2 separate regions of the Homo sapiens genome follow, and region 1 is linked to region 2. The links come from fine-mapping of genetic effects on gene expression. A gene starts in region 2. The other region holds a variant in brackets. All regions are shown on one strand. Distances are from middle to middle. Region 1 overlaps NGDN (neuroguidin). Region 2 holds the start of DAD1 (defender against cell death 1).

The links. PIP is the estimated chance that this variant, and not a neighbour inherited with it, causes the effect. A credible set is the group of variants that fine-mapping cannot tell apart.
Region 1: its variant is the best candidate, but not a certain one, in a credible set for the expression of DAD1 in follicular helper T cells (Schmiedel 2018, PIP 0.76).

Annotation. Positions count from the first base shown.
Region 1 is chr14:23,477,624-23,483,003 of GRCh38, reverse strand. NGDN (neuroguidin) reads right to left here. Exons shown (of 11, transcript NM_001042635.2): 11 at 4,831-4,997. The coding sequence ends at 4,978. Among named protein-coding and RNA genes, the nearest start is that of NGDN, 11 kb to the right of the region's middle. RefSeq lists enhancers at 1-175, 176-933. The variant T/A (reference allele first, on the strand shown) is at 2,739.
Region 2 is chr14:22,586,323-22,591,641 of GRCh38, reverse strand. It overlaps DAD1 (defender against cell death 1), which reads left to right and starts at 2,418. Exons shown (of 3, transcript NM_001344.4): 1 at 2,418-2,695. The coding sequence starts at 2,485. RefSeq lists enhancers at 2,138-2,779, 2,780-3,421.

The sequences.
Region 1 (5,380 bases), 890 kb before region 2:
CCCAGCACTGCCTCAAAACTCCCAACCACCATTAGAAACCCCCAGGGAGCCACCAAGGTCTAAGAAGGAAAGAAGGGAAGGGTTCCCCCCACCAAACAGACCAAGTGGGGGAGGACAGGGTGGAATGAAAGAGAGAATGCAAAAGCTCTGCAGAGGGAGGGGAGAGAGAAATGTGATCAGTAGTATTTGTTGTGCTTCCAGGGAGGAAGGATCTGTCACATTTTTAATAATAATAAATACATGAAGACAGATTTGCCAGCACTGCTCTGGCTTCTTGGGAAGTGTGGGGGAGGGGAAGTAATGCAGCTGCAGCACACACCAATATCTCCCCCTCCCCTCCCCCATTAGATAGGCTCAGTATTGCAGCAGCCTCCCCCTCCCCCTCTAACCGCAGTCCTCCCCTTCACAGCCCACCCTTTCCACGGTCCCGTCACACAGTTCTGCCCCTCCTTCCCCTACTTGTATCTCTACTCACTCCAACCCCACTCTGTCCTTTCAGTGCTGGTCCTCATTTAACACATGCTTACTCTAGCTGGAAGAAACCTTAGCACCTACATCTTAGATGAATGAATCTGTTCCCCCAATCCTGAGGCTCTGCTGTTTCCAATCAGTGCCCTTCACTAGCTGACAGCAATCTTCCCCTACACCCCACACAACACTCCCACAGATGTAATCCAGCACATTTCAGCATTTCCTGGATTCCACCAAAAAGGATTGCTTTTCTCCCCGTTTTAATCTCAATGTGACCTCCTTTCTCACATCCTTCCTTAAATATAATGGCCATCAAATGTGTTTGTGTTTAGGGGGTGTCAGGGCCTCAGGACTCAGTGACTACTGCCACCTATTGACCCAAGTTTGTTCACGATAGACCTTTAATACACTTCTTACACAGCGACGCTCTGTCATCTCAAAAGCATCAATAGCTTAAACATGCAAAGGCATGGCTCTGGGGGCTTCTCTGAGACCCTCTGAACAATGAGATCAAAGAAACACAAAAGCAAGACTGGGCAGAGAGCCAGAGCATTGATGCCTTTCCTCATGCAGAGGCAGAAAACGAGGCCCAAGGAATGAAAAAGCAACTTTAAGTCCCCTCAAGGTTCTCTAAGCAAAGATGAGTAGGGAACAGAGTTTTTCTTAAGGGCTGGTAAAAATTTCATGTATCATAATATAAATGATAAATGATGTTACCAATGGAGCAGGAGGCAGGATTCCACTCACATACCTCCATCAAGTTAGCCAAATCCTTGGCATGAATCTGGGATTTATGGACCTAAAAGATTCCAGGGAGGATGGGGGACACTCAGGGGTGTGTTTGACTCTCATCCAATCTGTACCAATCAGAACTGGAGACTGGACAAACTGGGCTCTGAAAAAGGGCAGGTCTACACCACGCAGCTCTATGGTTTAGCTGTGTCCCATTCACCAAACCAAGGAATGAGGAGCGTTTGAACTCTCCATGGTGCTGAAAATTGACACACTAATAATCTCCCCTGCAAACAAAACACAGTTTTCCTAATAAGGTATCTATGAAGACTGTTGTGAATTCCCAATAGACATTTCCCCAAGCCTTCATAAAATCCTAACAAAACAATGATTTTAAGGCAAAGACAGACCTTGGTCAAACTCTCTTCCCTGTCCCCTAAGATGAAAAGAATGAGGCAGAGATGTAAATTACTTCTACAGAATAAAGCTATCACATGACAAAACCATCACATGATAAAACCAAACAGGTAAGGTGCTCATGTGTGCATTAATGACAGCTATTACTTAGTGAACACCAGAAATGATCTGTTGTCAGCAATACACTGAGGAAATCCGATATTCATATGGTCTGAATAATCAGATAACTGAATCTATTAGTAGGAATAAGGGAAAGAAAAAAAGTGACCAGAACAGCCATAACGAAATCCTAAAATTCTAGTTCTTAGTTCCCTTGTTCTACTACCCTAACAGTTGTTTTCAAACTATATTCTAAGGAATTCTAAAGGTTCCTTGGGGGCTCCTCAGGAATCTTGGGGAAAGGGGGTCATAAGAACATGGAACTTCAGGACCCCTCATTCCCACTTCAATCAAAGTAACCCCACTTATGCTTGTTTTACATATTGAGAATCCATGTAATACTCCATCAAACAATACACTCTAAACAGTGTTTGATGACTCTGGTACAAATATTCTCAGAAATAGTTCAACTTTTTACCAGAAACTTCTTTCAAATAATGCCTAAAAGCCAGGGAAAACAAAATGTCCTGGGATTAAAGACTTGATTGAATTAATATAAGGTCCACAAAGGCAGGGATTTTGTCTGCTGTGTTCACTGGTATACCACAAAGAGACCAGAATTGTGGAACTTAGGGTTTCTTTGAAGACGAGGCCTGTAACAGAAATGGGGCAGTAGGGCGGGGGAGCTAGATTATAAACCACCTACAAATAAAAAAAGATTTTTTAACCCTGAAGATTTTCATGAACCACAGGACACTTGAAGTCCTCCATCCTCAGTGTTCCCCAAGCACTGGTTCTCCAACTCAGGAAAAATTGTTTGCCCTAAGTGTCTAAGCTTCCTCACTAGTAAAATGGAGATTTCATAAATTTTATAAGGATTGCCAGGCGTGGTGGCTCATACCTGTAATCCCAGCACTTTGGGAGGCCAAGGTGGGTGGATCACGAGGTCAGGAGATTGAGACTATCCCGGCTAACACAGTGAAACCCTGTCTCCACTAAAATACAAAAAATTAGCCAGG[T/A]GTGGTGGCACGTGGCTATAGTCCCAGCTACTCAGGAGGCTGAGACAGGAGAATCGCTTGAACCCAGGAGGCAGAGGTTGCAGTCAGCGGAGATCACGCCACTGCACTCCAGCCTGGGCAACAGAGTGAGACTCCATCTCAAAAAAAAAAAAAAAAATTTATAAGGATTAAGTATAAAGCACTTAGCTCAGCCTATAGCACAGGAATTTTTTTTTTTTTTTTGATGGGTCTTACTATCATTCAGTCTGGAATGCAGTGGTAAGATCATAGCTCACAGCAAGCTCAAACTCCAGGGCTTAGGCAATACCCCTGCCTCAGTCTCCCAAGCAGCTGGGACTACAGACACACGCCACCACACCTGCCTAATTTTTTTATTTTTATTTTTTTTTAGAGACAGGGTCTTGTTGTGTTAAACATGCTGGTCTTGAACTCTCTGGCCTCAAACTATCCTCCTGACCCAGCCTCCCAAAGTGTCCAGATTATAGATATGAGCCACCACACCTGGCCAGAAGGTAGTACCTGTTTTGTTTTGTTTTGTTTTGTTTTGTTTTTTAAAGAGCACTTCCCTTCCCCTGGAAGTTCCCATAATCCACAAATCTTAATAAATTAGAAACAAATATAGTGGTCCTAACAAGCAAATGAAGTGGTTTTAACTAAAGTATTTTTGAACTGAATCACTCATCTAGTTAGTTCAGCCATAAAGGAAAAAAAGTCTCTAAATCTGTTCTTGTGGCTCTTTGTTTAGATTCCCTTGAGGAAACAGAAGTATGAGAGCCCAGGGCATGTGAGACTCTCTCAGATCTATCAGGGACTAAAGGTTAGCGGCCCCAGACATAAGCCCATCTTGGTGTCATGCACAAAAGCTCTAGGCTCTTTGACTTGAAGGGAATCTCACAGATGAAGTCTAATACATTCCTTAGCTGAGGAAAATTAAAGGCCAGGGATATTAAGTGATTTGCCCAAGATCACAGAATTAGCCTAAGACAGCCATAGGTCCAGTCTCCTAACTACTTTCTACCAAGCGGCAGCTGAGTGAAAGACCCCTGCCCCAATCAGGCTGAATAGTATAAATCCAAATTCAGAAATTCAGAATCAACGAGGTTTTAGTCATATAACCCAAATTAATTTGTCTATCGATATAACCCAGCAATACTAGACATTAAAATCAGATGTTCATGAGACCCAAAGCCTTTTTTAAAAACTCCAATGAATTAATTCTACAGACCCAACTTCTATCTTTTTTTAATCCCTTTTTTCACTTTCTGTATTATCCAAGGCCTGTGGGACATCTCACCAACAGAGGTTATTCTCTCATTAGAATACAAGATCTCAGATGTATAACGCCCACCAGTCTCCTGGCTTGAGTTTGGCTAATTATTTCTGTGGGATTTTCATTTGTTTGGCTGTTAAGCTAGGAATGTTCTGCTTGTCTGCTGGCATTTTTTTTTTTTTTTTTTTTTTGCCAGCTCTTTATAGAAGGGTTGGCCTTTATTGACTCTGGTAAAATGACCCTCAGTTGAAGGCGGGGGGGTGGGGGTCAGAGTCTGAAAAACACAAGACTATACTGACTCTTCACTCTAGCCTTCTTACTCACTCTACTATTTTCTACAAACTCCCTCAGTAACTGACCAAAGATCAGCCTTATGTTCATGCTATTTCAGAAAGAAATGAAAAACATTCAGAGAAGTGGAGATAAGAATAATCTTGCTGATGTGGAAAGGTTCTATCTTGCTTTTGATTACAGCCAAGCTCAAGTTTCTTGAACCACTTATGCCACCTGGTGGCCAGCCCAGATAACACTAATAAAACCTAAAATTCATGTGTTAATATCTCAATCTGTATTGTATTATAACAAATCATACAGGAAGTTGTGGCAACATGGGTTGAAAGAGTTGATTATACCAGCCTCGTCTCTCAATACTTTTTGTGACGTAACCAATTTTTAGTTTTTGGGAAAAATATATTATCAAAGAAAACAATACAAATGTTTTGCACTTCCAAAAAAAATTTCCCTTTTCACCAACCACTCACCAAAAATATCCCAAACCCAACGACTCCAGTCGTACAATACATGTGCAAAAAGGGGCTTTAATTCATAAGCAAAATCAATTTTATTAGTAAGGCTCTTTCCACATGTCCAAAGCAAACAATTAATGAATTCCAGGGAAAACCACCTATATACAATGAAATTAGAAGTATCTCAGGATGACAAAAAATATACAAATATGTACACCCATAATCACCGCCGCCTCCGAAAACCTGAAAGGAAGGGAAACCAAGAATGAGGCAAAGGACAGTTGGAAAAGCTAAAGGGACAGGAAAACAGGACATCTAGAGGGAAGGGCTCACAGGGGTGGGGTCTCCTAGGCAGTACCCTGAATATCTTCCCAGGACAAAAGACGAGAAGTAGGAATAAAATTGAAATGGGATAATGGTTCCTTCAAGTGACACTTTACCAGTTCTATTTAGGGAAGCCTGAACAGGAGCTGTGGGACCTTAGAGGCAGAATCCAGAGATTCATTTTGTGAATGATGCTGATTTCCAGCTCAGGAAAGCAAAAAATAAAAGCCCACCTAAGGAGATTATTGCCCAGTATGGAAGAGATACTACAGGGCTTGGTGAGACCCAGAATGGCAAATCCA
Region 2 (5,319 bases):
TAGAGAAGTAGGCCTTTTCTTGCTGTTTTAAGTAGTTCAGAAAAGCCCTAGTGTAGTATATTGGTGTGACTAGCAGGTCTCAGAAACAAATGCATTCAATAAGTCCATTTGGTGTTTTTCATCTCTTCTTCTCTCCTGTGAGAGTTCCTGGGGAGATCTTAATGATGATAGTTGACATGGATCAAAGGCAGACAAAACATAAGGGAGAAAACACTGGAAGGAGCCTGGCTGATGGAACAGAAACTCCCTGAAGAATCCACACCTGAATGATTAAAAAGCATCAGCCTAGCCTGTAAAGTTTGAAGTTGAATATTCGTGAGGAAGCTACCCTCCTACTTGTTGATGAGGCAGAGAGAAAGGTTCAACTTGTCAGAGAAATTGATGCTTCCTGCCATATTATATTGAAATAAGAACCAGCTTGTTATCCACTCTTTTTTTTTCTTTCTCAGCAACATAGGTTTAGGCTGAACTTATGTTCATATAGCTGCACAAATCTCCACGGGTATGAATATAAATCTATCTATTCAAATAGACTCTAAAGGTTTCTTAGGTTATTTCTCTTCTTTCTAGAACTTAAGTAAGGCTTTGATCACCACTGATAATACATCCGTTAGTTAATGCGTGTAGAGTTTCCAGTCTAAAGGCAAATAAAAAGTGAAAAGGGGCCGGCGCAGTGGCTCACTCCTATAATCCCAGCACTTTGGGAGGCTGAAGCAGGCAGATCACCTGAGGTCAGGAGTTCAAGATCAGCTTGGCCAACATGGCGAAACCCCGTTTCTACTAAAAATACAAAAATTAGCCGGGCGTGGTGGCAGGTGCCTCTAATCCCAGCTACTCGGGAGGCTGAGGCAGGAGAATGGCTTGAACCCAGGAGGTGGAGGTTGCAGTGAGCCGAGATCGCACCATTCACTGCACTCCAGCCTGGGTGACAAGAGCAAAACTTCATCTCAAAAAAAAAAAAAAAAAAAAGTGAAAAGGCAGGAACGCTGTTGTTCACCTGCTGTTTTAGGAATTTTGCTCACGTACAGTTCAAAATATTAAGAAGCTGAAAATAAAGTACCTGGTCATGTGTGGAAAAACTTACAGCTAAAAGGTGAGATGAACTGGGTCTAGAAGGTCGGATTCACGTGAAATTAAAAGGGCAACGAAAGCCAGAACTTAATTTCTTAAAAAAAGTTAAAACAGGCCGGGTGCAGTGGCTCATGCCTGTAATCCCAGCACTTTGGGAGGCCGAGGCTGGCGGATCACAAGGTCAGGAGTTCGGGACCAGCCTGGCTAACAATGGTGAAACTCCGTCTCTACTGAAAATACAAAAATTAGCCGGGCGTGGTGGCGCGTGCCTGTAGTCCCAGCTACTAGGGAGGCGGAGGTTGCAGTGGGCCGAGATCGCGACACTGCACTCCAGCCTGGCCGACAGAGCAAGGCTCCGTCTCAAAAAAAAAAAAAAAAACAGTTAAAACCCTCAAAATAATCCCACTTGTTAAAATACAAAACCTGAAACCATTTCAGTTTCTTCTGCAAAATGAGTTGGAGAGAGTAGGGTTGAACCAGGCATGCTCTTTCGGGCCTTTCGACGCTGACATCCCGGGATATTACACCAGGTTCAAGATACCAGCTTGCGGAAAGAGAGCTGCTAAACTTGACCATATGCTTTTTGCACGACATTCGACAGCTGTCCCTCCCTTCACCAGCTCTTTTAAGGCTGCAAATATATCTGATTCACGTGAGAGTCCCTACAAGTTAGTACAACGTCAGGCCCCAAGGAGGCGCCCAATAAATGTTGGCATTGCAGGGCCAGATCCCGAGTTCCAGTTCAGAACCCTGCTGAGGTCAGGCTTCCTCCCTGCCTCCCGCCCCTCACCACACCCACTCACTCCCCCAAGTAATTAAGTCTAAACTGGGGCCTGTGCAGTGATTGGCCGCGCCGGGTCTCACTGCGGATGAACTTGACTTGTTCCAATGATCTGTGACAGACATCTGCAGACAGCGCCCTTAACAGAATTAGGGTCAGGCTGGTATCAAACCCCAGGAACGCCAGGCATTGCCTCAAAGTAGATGCAAACCGTTAAATCTTCCAGGACTCAGAAGGACCAGAGAGAGCCGGATACCTCTGGTTAGCTACGCGGTCCCCAGTAAAGCTTATTCCCCTCTTCCTCCCAGTGTGTCTTGTTGCCAGAGCAACTGTGGGCGTCACCGAGCTGACGGGCGGAAACAGAACAGAAAGAGTACACGTCCCCAGCTCATTGATAGGGCCATTGCGCAGACGCATTAACTTTTCTGAGTTGTAGTTGAGTCTGTTGATGCAGTCCGCGTCTGCGCATTAGTTGTTACGCGCCCTGGCCGGCCTCAGCGCCTGCGCAAATTGGCACACCGGGGAGGGCGGAGTTAGGTCACGAGGGTGCGCATGCGCAAACAGCACATCCGGTGTGGTCGACGGGTCCTCCAAGAGTTTGGGGCGCGGACCGGAGTACCTTGCGTGCAGTTATGTCGGCGTCGGTAGTGTCTGTCATTTCGCGGTTCTTAGAAGAGTACTTGAGCTCCACTCCGCAGCGTCTGAAGTTGCTGGACGCGTACCTGCTGTATATACTGCTGACCGGGGCGCTGCAGTTCGGTTACTGTCTCCTCGTGGGGACCTTCCCCTTCAACTCTTTTCTCTCGGGCTTCATCTCTTGTGTGGGGAGTTTCATCCTAGCGGGTAATGGTTCTATAAGTGATCATAATAATAATGTGTTACTTTGGTGTGCTGCTTTTGTTTTCATAGTACTCTATATCAGACCACCGCCCCTTGAAGTTATGAGAAGAGCCTGCATTGCCCTTTTGTTGTGAATGGGGAAATTGAGGCTCAGAAAGCTTAGATTATATGCCTAATACCAAACGGCTCCGTAGGAGTTGGACTTAAAAGTCTAAAGAAACCACCTTCGTGCCGCTACTCCACTTGGTGATCCACTTCACTTAATATTGGTCCGGGGAAAACCCTATTCCAACTTTAACTTAGGTTTAACACAACTCTAAAATTAGTAGACTTTTCAAATGAAAAACCCAACCTTGAATCATCTCTGTCATCTTGGCCTAATCATTACCAATCTCCGGTGAAACGTTTCAATGAAAGTGCAAAGAATATAAATACTGGTGCTTTTCTTGTTGAATCATCCTTTACTTGATTTTGCCTTTTAGCTGCTACTACTTTTTTTCTTGTTGAGGAAGCTGTTATTTCACTGTCCTGAACCCAATTTTTGTTCACATAACTCTATTTTAGCCTTATTTTTCCTTTTGATTCCAGGATTTGGTAACCTTGTAGACTGCTATATTTAGCGAGAACAGTCTCCATCAATTTTTGTTAAAATCTGACTTTTCTTGCCCAACGGGGATTCAGTGAATACTGAAAACAGGCGTGGCCTCTATCACTGGTATCACCTGCTACTTTGACTTTGAAAACATGCCAGCATTCATGGTTTCTTTTCAGTGTGATCATCAGTCAGGTCATCAGTTGTATTTTCAGTCCAATATGAGGCATTATGGTAAAAGCTTTGGCACATGTTCTTTATCCGTAAAGAGTTTATGGTCTAGTTGGGGTACAGACAAAATACAGCATTGGAATTGTCTGGAGGCCTGGCACAGTGGCTCATGCCTGTAATCCCAGTACTTTGGGAGGCCGAGGTAGGCAGATCACTTGAGGTCAGGAGTTCAAGACCAGCCTGGCCAACATGGTGAAACCCCATCTCTACTGAAAATACATAAATTAGCCAGGCATGGTGGCACACACCTGTAATCCCAGCTACTCGGGAGGCTGAGGCAGAATCGCTTGAACCCGGGAGGTGGAGGTTGTAGTGAGCCGAGATCGTGCCATTGCACTTCAGCTTGGGTGAGAGTGAGGCTCAGCCTCAAAAAAAAAAAAAAAAAGTCTGGTGACAGTGGTGCTGTGCTTAAAGTTACAGACCTATAGAATGCTTATTGTACATTTACATTGTTCTGACACACCAGAGATATTTCTTAGAATTTAAAACAGGTCTGAGGATCTAATGACTTGTGTACTGAAGTTGCAGATTAGCCTTTTGATTGGATATTTAGTTACCATCTTTGACTTTTGTCCTAGATGACCAAGACCTAGTTGTCTGTGGTGGCGTCCTTGCCTTCAGGATGTGTTAACCATCATCCGACCAGATACACTACCCCTTTGCTCTAAGTATTCTCCACCACCCACCCACCGCCCTCTGCCACGGTACTATATGTTTTTATTAGCCAGCCCGGAGAAGGAACCTTGATGAGAACTTTTGATTTAATTTTGTTTGATGTTTTTGTTTCCAGGTCTGGAAGAGTAGGAGCAAGGCAGGGTCTGAAAGCTGATTTTAAAAAAGATGCCTTCTCCATGTAGAAGTCACCCTGCCTTCATAAGCCTCTAGGGTCTAGAATGATTTTTCATGGATGCTTTGAAGAATGTGGTTTGCTGAAGAGTGGGCATGGACTAGAGTTATAGATTATCAGTGTAATAAAGCCAGAAGGTTTTTTTGAGCAAATGACTTTCACTTATGCCAAGACCTGTTTTTGAGCCCGTTGTGGCTGAAATTGAATTGGCAGACTGGACTGCCTTTCTCCTCTCCAGTGGGAACTAGGTGGCTTGTCATTGAAGAAAAACCTAGTAAAAGGGCATATTAGTAATGGGGCCAATAAGGGGGATTAGGATTTCCAGATCTGTTAGATAACAGATAATAGAGCTATAGAAATGAAAGCAACTTCAAGAAAAGAAGGGATTCATGATAATTCTTAGTTGCCACAGAAGGGTATGATTTACCCTTCTTTTGACAGCATTGACTTTCCTAAATCCTGCCTCTTCTGCCATTTGTTAGCCTAGATCATCAACTGGAGACTGGTTTTAATGGGAAATTTGGACGCTTATCCTTTGTTTTGATTGTTGGCAAAGGTAGCCTTGTTCCTTTTTATGGTGCTGGGGTTTCTAACTTTCCTGTGGAATTTCCTGTTGCAAGAGAATGGAGGAGTCCAGTGAGCTGGGAGAGGGAAATGTAGGCGATACTGTTGAAGGATTAGGTAGTGCTGGGTGCTAGATGTTTGAATGCCAGGCCAAGGAATTTGGACTTTTTTTGAGATGGAGTTTTGCTCTTTTTTCTCAGGCTGGAGTGCAATGGCGATCTCGGTTCACTGCAACCTCTGTCTCCCAGGTTTAAGCAATTCTCCTGCCTCAGCCTCCGAAGTAGCTGGGATTACAGGCATGTGCCACCACGCCCGGCGAATTTTGTATTTTTAGTGGAGACGGAGTTTCTCCATGTTGGTCAGGCTGGTCTCAAACTCCTGACCTCAGGTGAT